Linked DNA regions of Homo sapiens: region 2 is linked to region 1. Evidence: fine-mapped expression QTL. A gene starts in region 1. The other region holds a variant in brackets. All regions are shown on one strand. Distances are between the middles of the regions. Region 1 holds the start of PYM1 (PYM1 exon junction complex associated factor). Region 2 has its middle 31 kb from the start of PYM1.

Region 1 (5,376 bases):
GGGTAAAGAAAATGATTAAGAGTAAAGAGAAGTATACTGGATAAGTAGTATTTTCAAAACACACATTAAAAGTTGGTAATTCATGAAGGAGCTACTGGGTAGAGAACAGAAGGAAAGAGGTAGTACCACTTTAAATTGTGAGGTTGGGGAGAAGTAGCAGCAACCTGGGTTGTCATCAGATACCATAAAATAGGTGGGCTGAGGTGTAAGGAACATGGAAAGCAGCAGAGCAAGAAGCAAAATGGCACATTTTAAAACACCGTGTGTACCAAGGCACAGGCACACTGTTGCTTCTACAGACTACAGACTACACATATGAGGGCTACAAAAACAGAAACACTTTGCACTTGCACAGTATTTTATAAATTGCTTTTACATATATTATTTGATCATCATTGAGTAGCTATTACTACTATGCATATTTTCCTAAAGATGAGGCCATTAGGAAGGGACAAAACCATGATAAAAGCTGTGATTCTCCGTTTCCAACACATACACCTTACATACACAGCAGACACTTCAGCATCTCGGCCAGCCAGGCTGCAAATTCTTCTCTAGCCAGAAGGAATAGTGGGTTTTATTCACTTGTCAAAGGGCTTCGGAGAAAAGCCACTAGATACTTTCCTGTTTGCCTTTTCCCACCTTAGACCCCTCAATTTCTATCACCATCACGGGAGAAGGTAGCGAAGGGTGGCTCCATCAGGGAGAAAACTCAAGCTGAAAGTTGTATTAGGGTCCTCTTCCCTTCACACCTCTAAACCTCAGTGACCCAACAAATGAAGATACGGGAGAGGAAAAGGTACTATGTAGAAACGAGGAGGTCTTCAGCAAATAAAGCTTCGAGAAAAATAATGAAAACGGGACTGGGGTAGGGCAGAAACCAAGTATAGCTGAGATGGGGGAGGGGAAAAGAAGGAGGGCAGGAACTGGAGGGAAATGAGAGTGTAGAAGCCCCCAAGCCTGAAGAACCTAAAAGAGATATGAGTGGTCCAACTGCTGGAGAAAAGCTAAGGGCCCGTGAGGGTCCTGAAGCAGGGACCAGCACTGAAGGACCCCAGGGTTTGGGTGACCGGAAGCAGAGACCCCAAACACGAGACCAGAAGGGGGCGCAGGAGACACCCCGTAGGAGAGAATGAATGGGGAAGGCGGTCCGGGGGGCGGGGCAAAGGAGGGGCCCCGGGATGGGCGGGGCACAGACCCCTTTCCAAGTCCGAACCCCTGCCCCGAGAGCCCGGAGAGAAGCGGCTCCGCGCCTCCCGCACTCACCGCCGGTCTCGTCAGTAACATAGGGAGTCGCCATCTTGAAAACGCAAACCACTTCCGGCGTGAGCGGGCTGGGGTCCCGCCCCCCTCCCCACCGGAAGTGGAGTCCCGATCGTAGCAAGCCACCATCTTAGTCTTAAAGGGAGAGTGCACCATTTCATGGGCGGAGGTGGAGGAGGAGGAAGAGTGGAGAAGCTGAAATAGTTAATAAAATAAAGCCGTGGGCTTTTTACTGCCACCGATACCATTACTGAGCGCTTGCTGCCTGTAAAACAGTCCTCAGGGAGCCAAGAGAAGTTCCGAGGCACAGTCCCTCTCATCCCCAGGAACTCCTCGTACGTCCAGGACCTGCGAGGGAAAAGGGCGCAAGGCCCACCTGCACCCAAAAAGGGGGCCTTATAAATGAAGAAAGGAAGAATATCCAGGCTCTGGCCTGCACCCAGATCTCAGAGCGGCTTGGTGACGTGGAGCAGACAAACTCCAGGAACGCACTGGGGCGCACAAGTGTTTCTAGGGACGGTTGGAGACCCTATCTAACCCTAAGAAGGTGGGGAGGTCGAATTCGTGTGCCGATTGCTGTCGGCCAACCCACTCAACCACCAGAGACCCGCGGGAGGGGCGTGCAAGGCGGAGGGCGCCGCGGGTCGGTCACCTGTCTCCGTAGCCGCAGGGCTGCCGGCAGCTTCCATGGCCGAAGAGGCAGCGGACCAGGTTGGGCGGGCGGCCCTGGCCTGGCTCTGCCCCGCTGGGCGGCGCCGGGGATTCGGCGGCGAAGTGATGAGGGCCCTAGTTGCTTCTCGCCCAGACCTCCTAACCCTGAGTGCCTCCTCGGGCTGGGCCCTAGGGTCAGAGGGCAGGGTGAAAGCTTCTGGGCGGACCTACTTAGTATTCTAATTAAACTCGTCCAACCGCTGAGGATCTAAAGCGGGGCAACTCGCCAATAATCCGGTCCCGTAGTGTCACTCCATTTGTAGTCCTGCCCTGCGCCGTACCTCCCTATTCTGCAGACGAACCCATATGGTCTCCCTCCGCCGCCCATTTCAGCAACTGTTGTTCCTTCAGGGCTAAGTCCTGTTAAACTTGTTTCCCCTACAGCCTGAGAGGAGCCCGGCTGCAGGTTCCTCTCCTCAGGTGTCAACTCTGCCCTCCTCCACCCTCATATAGCTTTTTCCTTATCAACCCTTTTACCTTCCTGCTTATATCCCCACTTTGGCTTAGTTTAATGTCCAGCAGTACCCCTGGAACCAGGGAGGAGGCAGGAGGTAAGTATTGGTGACTACCTCCAACACTAGGCAGCATGTCCCATTTAAAAAACAAAACAAAACCCAGGCGCGGTTGCTCACGCCTGTAATCCCAGCACTTTGGGAGGCCAAGGCGGGTGGATCACGAGGTCCGGAGTTCAAGACCAACCTGGCCAAGATGGCGAAACCCCGTCTCTACTAAAAATACAAAAAAATTAGCCGGGCGTGGTGGCGGGTGCCTGTAATCTCAGCTACTCGGGAGGCTGAGGCAGAGAATTTCTTGAATCTGGGAGGCGGAGGTTGCAGTGAGCCAAGATCGCTCCACTGCACTCCAGCTTGGACGACAGAGTGGGACCCCGTCTCAAAAAAAAAAAAAAAAAAAAAAAAAAAAAACTAAAAAACTGAGCAATGGCTGACTAGGACCTTTATAAGACAAATTAGGCCTCAGAAGTTTTCTGGGGGCCGCAGCTTGCCTTCCTTCCCATCCTCCATGTCTGTGACTTCCACTAGAGGCCAATTCAGAATGTCTGGGGGTGGGGCTCATTTAAAAAGTATTTCCAGGCCGGGTGCGGTGTCTCATGCCTGTAATCCCAGCACTTTGGGAGGCCCAGGTGGGCAGATCACTTGAGGTCAGGAGTTCGAGACCAGCCATGGCCAACATGGTGAAATCCCATCTCTACTAAAAATACAAAAATTAGCCGGGTGTGGTGGCGAGTGCCTGTAATCCCAGCTACTCGGGAGGCTGAGGAATGAACCTGGGAGGTGGAGGTTGCAGTGAGCCAAGATCGTGCCACTGCACTCCAGCTTGTATTATAGAGCAAGACTCAGTCTCAAAATAAATAAATAAAAAGTATTTGCATACGATACACTGTTATTGCAAGTGTTGTGACACTGTGGTCTTAAACCCTTGCTCTCTTTTCACCGATTGTACTTCAGCCCTGCAGGGTCTAACATCTTGTCCTTAACCTTGTTATGATTAGACGTGAGAGTGTGGGATGAAGCCTCTAAGAACTAATGGGATACGTTGGTCTTGACTGAACTACCTCAGGAGTGGTCTCTGCAGCTTTCAGAGGCTGCTCAATAGACCTTTGTGCAGGAGGGAAACCTAAAGTCGCCCCTGTTCACTACCAACCCTAGGCCCCCTTCCCACCCCCAGACATCCTGCCTCAGCACTAGGGTTGACAGGAAGTGAAACTCAATTGTCTGCTTAGTAGACCTGCCTGGGACCCAACCCGGGGCCCCGGATGTGGCCCCCCACCCTGAGGAGGAACAGGGCAAAAAAGGCCGGGGAGAACAGGCTGTTGTTTTTTCCTTTCCCTTTGTTCATTGCGGTTTCTTTCTTTCTGATTTTTATGATGTGGTTGATTAAAGAAATGAGCACCTGGAACCGTAGGCATTAAACGCCTCCTTCTTAGATGTTTCTTGGCTTTTCTTCCCCCACCCACACCCCCCAGTAACTGACTTGGGGTATGATGGAGCACAGATCCTAAAGAAGACACAAAGAAGTCTAGAGTAAGACTGATTCCACCTTATTCCTTATTCGAGAGATAACATTACACCCCACTTTGAAGTACCAAAAACTATCTTAAAAGGAGTGTCTTCAACTTTATTTAGGGACATATCTAAAGACGATAGAGTGAGAAACACAGGTAATACATAGGGTGGCATTACTTTGAGCATTCTTTGCAAGGAAAGCTGAGTGCCTTAGAGATTAATATCGTTCCAAGATTTCTAAATGAAAGATCCAGGGACAGAAAACTGATAGGCAGAGGTGTTAGGGGACCTATTCTTACATTGTATGTTTGTTTAAAGTAGCTCAGAGCAGAGAGGCTTTACACACATTGCACCACTCATTGATATAGTCCCTAAACTGGACTATGTTTTTGCTTGTATTGCAGAACTAAGTACAGGACTTAGTGTATAAAAGGCCTTCAGAAGAGTTTGTTTACTATGACTAAGGAGGTCATAGAGGAAGGAGAGATGAAGCTTTGCTAACAGTGAAGAAAATACTGTAAAGACAGGATGGGGAGTGTCAAGGGCCTTGTTTTTTTTTTTTTTTTTTTTTTTTTTTAGACAGAGTTTTGCTCGTGTCACCCAGGCTGGAGTGCAGTGGCATGATCTCGGCTCACTGCAACCTCTGCCTCCCAGGTTCAAGCGATTCTCCTGCCTCAGCCTCGCGAGTAACTGGGACTACAGGCATGTGCCACCACGCCCGGCTAATTTTTTGTATTTTTAGTAGAGACAGGTTTTCACCGTGTTAGCCAGGATGGTCTCAATCTCCTGATCTCGTGATCCGCCTGCCTCAGCCTGCCAAAGTGCTGGGATTACAGGTGTGAGCCACCGCGCCCGGCCTTTGGCCCTTGTCTTTTTATGATTGGGGGTGAGAGGGTGAGACTTGGAGGGGCACAGGAGCAGAGAGACAGACCCCTCTTCAACCTATGCCCGAAATCTCCAGTTTGGATACAACAATACTCCCAAACCCTATTACTCAGCAGCTATATTTCTGGCAAATGTGGAGGAGTCTGTTCCAACAAGCCTGTCTTGAAACAATCAAGAACTGCTTAGATATCCCTGTTTCCACTAGAGGGCCTCATGTATTCATTCCCTTTCCAACCCCCACCAAAAGTATGTATATATTATGTGTGTGTATGTATGCATACACAATACCCACACATGCATATACCCTTCTAGTCAGAGGTCTCCCCTCCCCCTTCTTCCCACCCCCAGGTGTAAGAAGGACGATTCCAGGAACCTAAGGCTTTGTTACTCTGCCCCATTTTCAATGAAGGGTAGGAGGGAGTTAGACAGGGGTTGGGGCGGGGCCAGTGAGCAGGATGCCTGGGTCTCCAGTTCCTGCCAGTGAGTCCCTAGG
Region 2 (5,376 bases), 31 kb before region 1:
TACAGGCACACACCACCACACCTGGCTAAGTTTTTGTCTTTTTAGTAGAGACAGAGTTTCACCTTGTTGGCCAGGCTGGTCTCGAACTCCTGGCATCAAGTGATAAACCCACCTCGGCCTCCCAAAGTGTTGGGATTACGGGCGTGAGCCACTACACCCAACTGATGTTTTTACTTTACAAACTTTTAAATTTTTTGTTAACTTTTTGACTCTTTTGTAAAAAACACTTAGCTTAAAACAGAAACACATTGTACAGCCGTACAAAAATATTTCTTTATATCCTTATTCTATAAGCTTTTTTCTATTTTTATTTATTTACTTATTTATTTTGAGATGGTGTCTTGCTCTGTTACCCAAGCTGGAGTGCAGTGGCGTGATCTCGGATCACTGCAACCTCTGCCTCCTGGGTTCAAGCAATTTTCCTGCCTCAGCCTCCTGAGTAGCTGGGATTACAGGCACACACCACAGTGCCCAGCTAATTTTTTTGTATTTTTAGTAGAGACCGGGTTTCACCATGTTGGCCAGGCTGGTCTTGAACTCCTGATCTCAAGTGATCCACCCGCCTCGGCCTCCCAAAGTGCTGGGATTACAAGGCGTGAGCCACCACGCCCGACTCTTTTTTCTATTTAAAAAATTTTTATTTTATTTGTATTGTATAAACTTTTTTGTTAAAAACTAAGACATGGGACAGGGCGCAGTAACTTTTAGTAATGTTTTAGTAACTTTTAGTCTCCACTAAAAATACAAAAAAAAAACATAATTGGGCGTGGTGACACACGCCGTAGTCCCAGCTACTCAGGGAGGCTGAGGGAGGAGAATTTCTTGAACTCAGGAGGCAGAGGTTGCAGTGAGCCAAGATAGCATCACTGCACTACAGCCTGGGTGACAGAGGGAGACTCCATCTCAAAAAACAAAACAAAACAAAAACAAACAAACAAAAAAAAAACCCCTAAGACATGGGAGCTGGGCGTAGTGGCTCATGCCTGTAATCCCAGCACTTTCGGAAGTTGAGGTGGGCTGACTGCTTGAGCCTAGGAGTTTGAGACCAGCCTGAGCAACATAGTCAGAACCCATCTCTAGAAAAAAATTTAAAAAATTAGCGGAGTGTGGTGGCACATACCTGTAGTCCCAGCTACTAAGGACGCTGAAGTGGGAGGATCACCTGAGTCCAAGGATTTAAGGCTGCAGTAAGCCGTTATCGTACCACTGCACTCCAGCCTAGGTGACAGAGATCCTGTCTCAAAAAAAGAAGGCCGGGAGTGGTGGCTCATGCCTGTATCCCAGCACTTTGGGAGGCCGATGCAGGCAGATCACTTGAAGTCAGGAGTTAGAGACCAGCCTAGACAACATGGTGAGACCCCGTATCTACTAAAAATACAAAAATTAGCCAGGCATGGTGGTGCACCTGTAATCCCAGCTACTGGGGAGGCTGAGGCAGGAGAATCATTTGAACCCGGGAGGTGGAGGTTGCAGTGAGCCTAGATCGTGTCACTGCACTCCAGCCTGGGCAACAGAGCAAGACTCTGTCTCAAAAAAAAAAGAAAATTAACTGAGCATGATGGAGTAAGCCTATGGTCCCAGCTACATAGGAGGCTGAGGCAGAAGGATCACTTGAGCCCAGAAGTCAAGGCTGCACTTAGCTGTGTTTTCACCACTGCACTCCAGCTTGAATGACAGAGAGGTGCTGCCTCACAAAAACAAAAACAAAAGCTAACAGACATATTAGCTTAGGCCTACACAGGATCAGGATCATCAATATCACTGTCTTCCACCACCACATTTTGTCCCACTGGAAGGTTTTCTGGGGCAATAACACACATGGTGCTGTCATCTCCTATAACAATGCCTCCTTCTAGAATATCTCCTGAAGGATCTTCCTGAGGCTGTTTTACAGTTAACTTTTTTTTTTTTTTGAGACAGATTCTCGCTCTGTTGCCCAGGCTGGAGTGCAGTGGCATGAACTTGGCTTACTGCAAGCTCTGCTTCCCAGTTCAAGCAATTCTCCTCCCTCAGTCTCCCGGGTAGCTGGGATTACAGGCGCGTGTCACCACACCTGGCTAATTTTTGTATTTCCTAGTAAAGAGGGGGTTTCACCACATTGGCCAGGCTGGTCTCGAACTCCTGACCTCAGGTTATCCACCCGCCTCGGCCTCCCAAAGTGCTGGGATTACAGGCATGAGCCACTGAGCCTGGCCAATAATGGTTTTTAAAGTATAGATTCCTGTAAGATATCTAAATTTACAAAGCATCAAACATCTCTGTATAAGCCAATTAAATCTCACATATAAAATCTCTATAATTTTATAGGGATCCTATGAAAGGGAACTCAGGCTGCTTTTGGTCTCACACTTGACTGGGGTGCTCAGTCAAGTACTCATTAACTGTTCAGCTGTGCGTGAGGCACTAATTATCCCCCATCTTCTGTTCTGCACATGACTTGCAGCCTCATTCAGTCAAATATTTGAGAATGTACTATGTCAGGGACTGAGGATGCAATGATGATAAATACAATCCCAGGGCTTGAGGAGTTCATAGTTTAATAAGGAGGAGGGCTGGCTGGGCACAGAGGCTCACGCCTGTAATCCCAGCACTTTGTGGGGCTGAGGCTGGCGGATCACCTGAGGTTGGGAGTTTGAGACCAGCCTGACCAACGTGGAGAAACCCTGTCTCTACTAAAAATACAAAAATCAGCCAGGCGTGGTGGTGCATGCCTATAATTCCAGCTACTCGGGAGGCTGAGGCAGGAGAATTGCTGGAAGCCGGGAGGCGGAGGTCATGGTGAGCTGAGATTGTGCTCCAGCCTGGGCAACAAAAGCAAAACTTTATCTTAGAAAAAAATAAAAAATAAATGCTACTACAAAAGTTAAGTTTGAGCTGGGCGCAGTGGCTCACGCCTGTAATCCCAGCACTTTGGAAGGCTGAGGCGGGCACTCACTTGAGGTCAGGAGTTCAAACCCAGCCTAGCAAATATGGTAAAACCTGTATCTACTAAAAATTAAAAAAAAAAAAAATTAGCCAAGCATGGTGGTGCACGCCTATAATCCCAGCTACTCAGGAGGCTGATATAGGAGAATCGCTTGGACCTGGAAGGTGGAGGTGACAGTGAGCTGAGATCACGCCACTGCACTCCAGCCTGATGACAAGAGTGAGACTTCATCTGAAAAAAAAAAAAAAAAAAAAGAAGCCAGGAATGGTGGCTCACGCCTGTAATCCCAGCACTTTGAGATGCCAAGGCTGGTGGATCGCTTGATGTCAGGAATTCAAGACCAGCCTGACCAACATGGTGAAACTCTGTCTCTACTAAAAATACAAAATTAGCCAGACATGGTGGCACACACCTGTAATCCCAGCTA[C/T]TTGGGAGGCTGAGGCAGGAGAATCACTTGAACCTGGGAGGCAGAGTTTGCAGTGATCTGAGATCACACCATTGCACTCCAGCCTGGGCAACAACAGCAAAACTCCATCTCAAAAAAAAAAATAAAAAAAAAAAAAAGAAGAAGGCTGGGTGTGGTGGCGTGAGCCTGTAGTCCCAGCTACTTGGGAGGCTGAGGCAGGAGAATCACTTGAACCCAGGAGGCAGAGGCTGCAGTGAGCCGAGGTCGCGCCACTGCACTCCAGCCTGGGTGACAGAGCAAGACTGTCTCAAAAAAAAAAAAAAGTAAGTTTGGAGTTAAAAAGGAAGCAAATAAAGGTGCATAAATTAACATTTGAGAGTACAAGGCAGGCGGATCACCTGAGGTCAGGAGTTCGAGACCAGCCTGGCCAACATGATGAAACCCCGTCTCTACTAAAAATACAAAAATTAGCCCGGTGTGGTGGCACACGCCTGTAATCCCAGCTACTCAGGAGGCCGAGACAGGAGAATCACTTGAACCTGTGAGGCAGAGGTTGCAGTGAGCCAGGATCATGCCACTGCACTCCAGCCTGGGTGACAGGGTGAGACTCCATCTCAAAAAAAAAAGACTTCAAGACCAGCCTGTCCAACATGGTGAAACCTCGTCTCTTACTACAAATACAAAAATTAGCTGAGCATGGTATTGGGTGCCTGTTACCCCAGCTACTCAGGAGGCTGAGGCAGGAGAATTGCTTGAACCTGGGAGGCGAAGGTTGCAGTGAGTCAAGATTGCACCACTGCACTCTAGCCTGGGCAATAGAGCAAGACTCCATCTAAAAAAAAATATATATATATATATATATATTTATATATACACATATTATTTGTGTGTGTGTATATATACATATATATGTGCATATATATACACACTATATATAGTATATATATATACACACACATATATATGTATGTGTATATATATGTATGTGTGTGTGTGTATATATGAATAAAGGAAGGCTTCCCAGAGAGAATAACATTTAAGAGAGCCAAAGGCTAAGAAAAAGTTCATTAGGGGCCAGGCTCGGTGGCTCACGCCTGTAATCCTAGCACTTTGAGAGGCTGAAGCAGGCAGGTGGCTTTAGCTCAGGAGACCACCCTAGGTAACATAGTGAAACCCCGTTTCTATCAATTAAAAAAAAAGTTCATTAGGGGGTCAGGAAGTGTTCTAGGCAGAGGGACAAGCAGAGGCAAAGGACTGAGACTCAGACAGAATATGGTTCATCTGAAGAACTGAAAGAAGTTCAGTATAGCTGCAGCAATGAGTTTGATCAGAGTTGGAGAATGGAAAGACATGACGCTGGAGTTAAGTAGGGCCAGATTATATGTGAGCTTATGAGTCAGGCTAAGAACTCTGAACTCTTGAGATAGTTCATTACAGCTGACTTCCCACTCCTTTCATCTCCACCCCCACAGCTAGCTAGAGAAAAAGGCTGCGATAAATGAGGGTATGGAAACCAGAGGACATGTAAAAATTAAGTGACAGATCTTTTGGGTGTAAGTTCCTCTACATGTATCACTAATTTGCCCCACAATGCCATCTTGGGGTGGCATCTAAGAAGGTGAAATTTCAAAAGAGTTGTCCTAGGTGCAGCTGTGAAATAAGATTATCTTCAGAAACAGTAAGGAAGGTACAGAACTCCCGTTGCTATTCAGCACACTAATGGCAACATATAAATTAACATGTCAAGTTAAATTTGTTCTAAGTTTCATTTGATTATAACACTAATTCGTCTACTGAAGTCTCAGCAAACATGCAGAAATTAGTGTTGCTAATTTGGTCATAAACTCACAATTTTTAAAAATTAAATACCTCTGGCCGGGTGCAGTGGCTCACGCCTGTAATCTCAGCACTTTGGGAGGTTGAGACAGGTGGATCACCTGAGATCAGGAGTTCGAGACCAGCCTGGCCAACATGGTGAAACCCCATCTCTACTAAAAATAAAAATAAAAATAAAAATAATTAGTCAGGCGTGGTGGTGCACGCC

The links. PIP is the estimated chance that this variant, and not a neighbour inherited with it, causes the effect.
Region 2: its variant is the best candidate, but not a certain one, in a credible set for the expression of PYM1 in testis (GTEx, PIP 0.86).

Annotation. Positions count from the first base shown.
Region 1 is chr12:55,925,810-55,931,185 of GRCh38, forward strand. PYM1 (PYM1 exon junction complex associated factor) reads right to left here and starts at 2,085. Exons shown (of 3, transcript NM_032345.3): 1 at 1,916-2,085. The coding sequence starts at 1,952. DGKA (diacylglycerol kinase alpha) reads left to right here and starts at 5,353. Exons shown (of 24, transcript NM_001345.5): 1 at 5,353-5,376. RefSeq lists a silencer at 1,027-1,176 and enhancers at 1,195-1,775, 1,267-1,486, 1,527-1,696, 1,776-2,356.
Region 2 is chr12:55,894,476-55,899,851 of GRCh38, forward strand. No RefSeq gene overlaps it. Among named protein-coding and RNA genes, the nearest start is that of PYM1, 31 kb to the right of the region's middle. The variant C/T (reference allele first, on the strand shown) is at 3,354.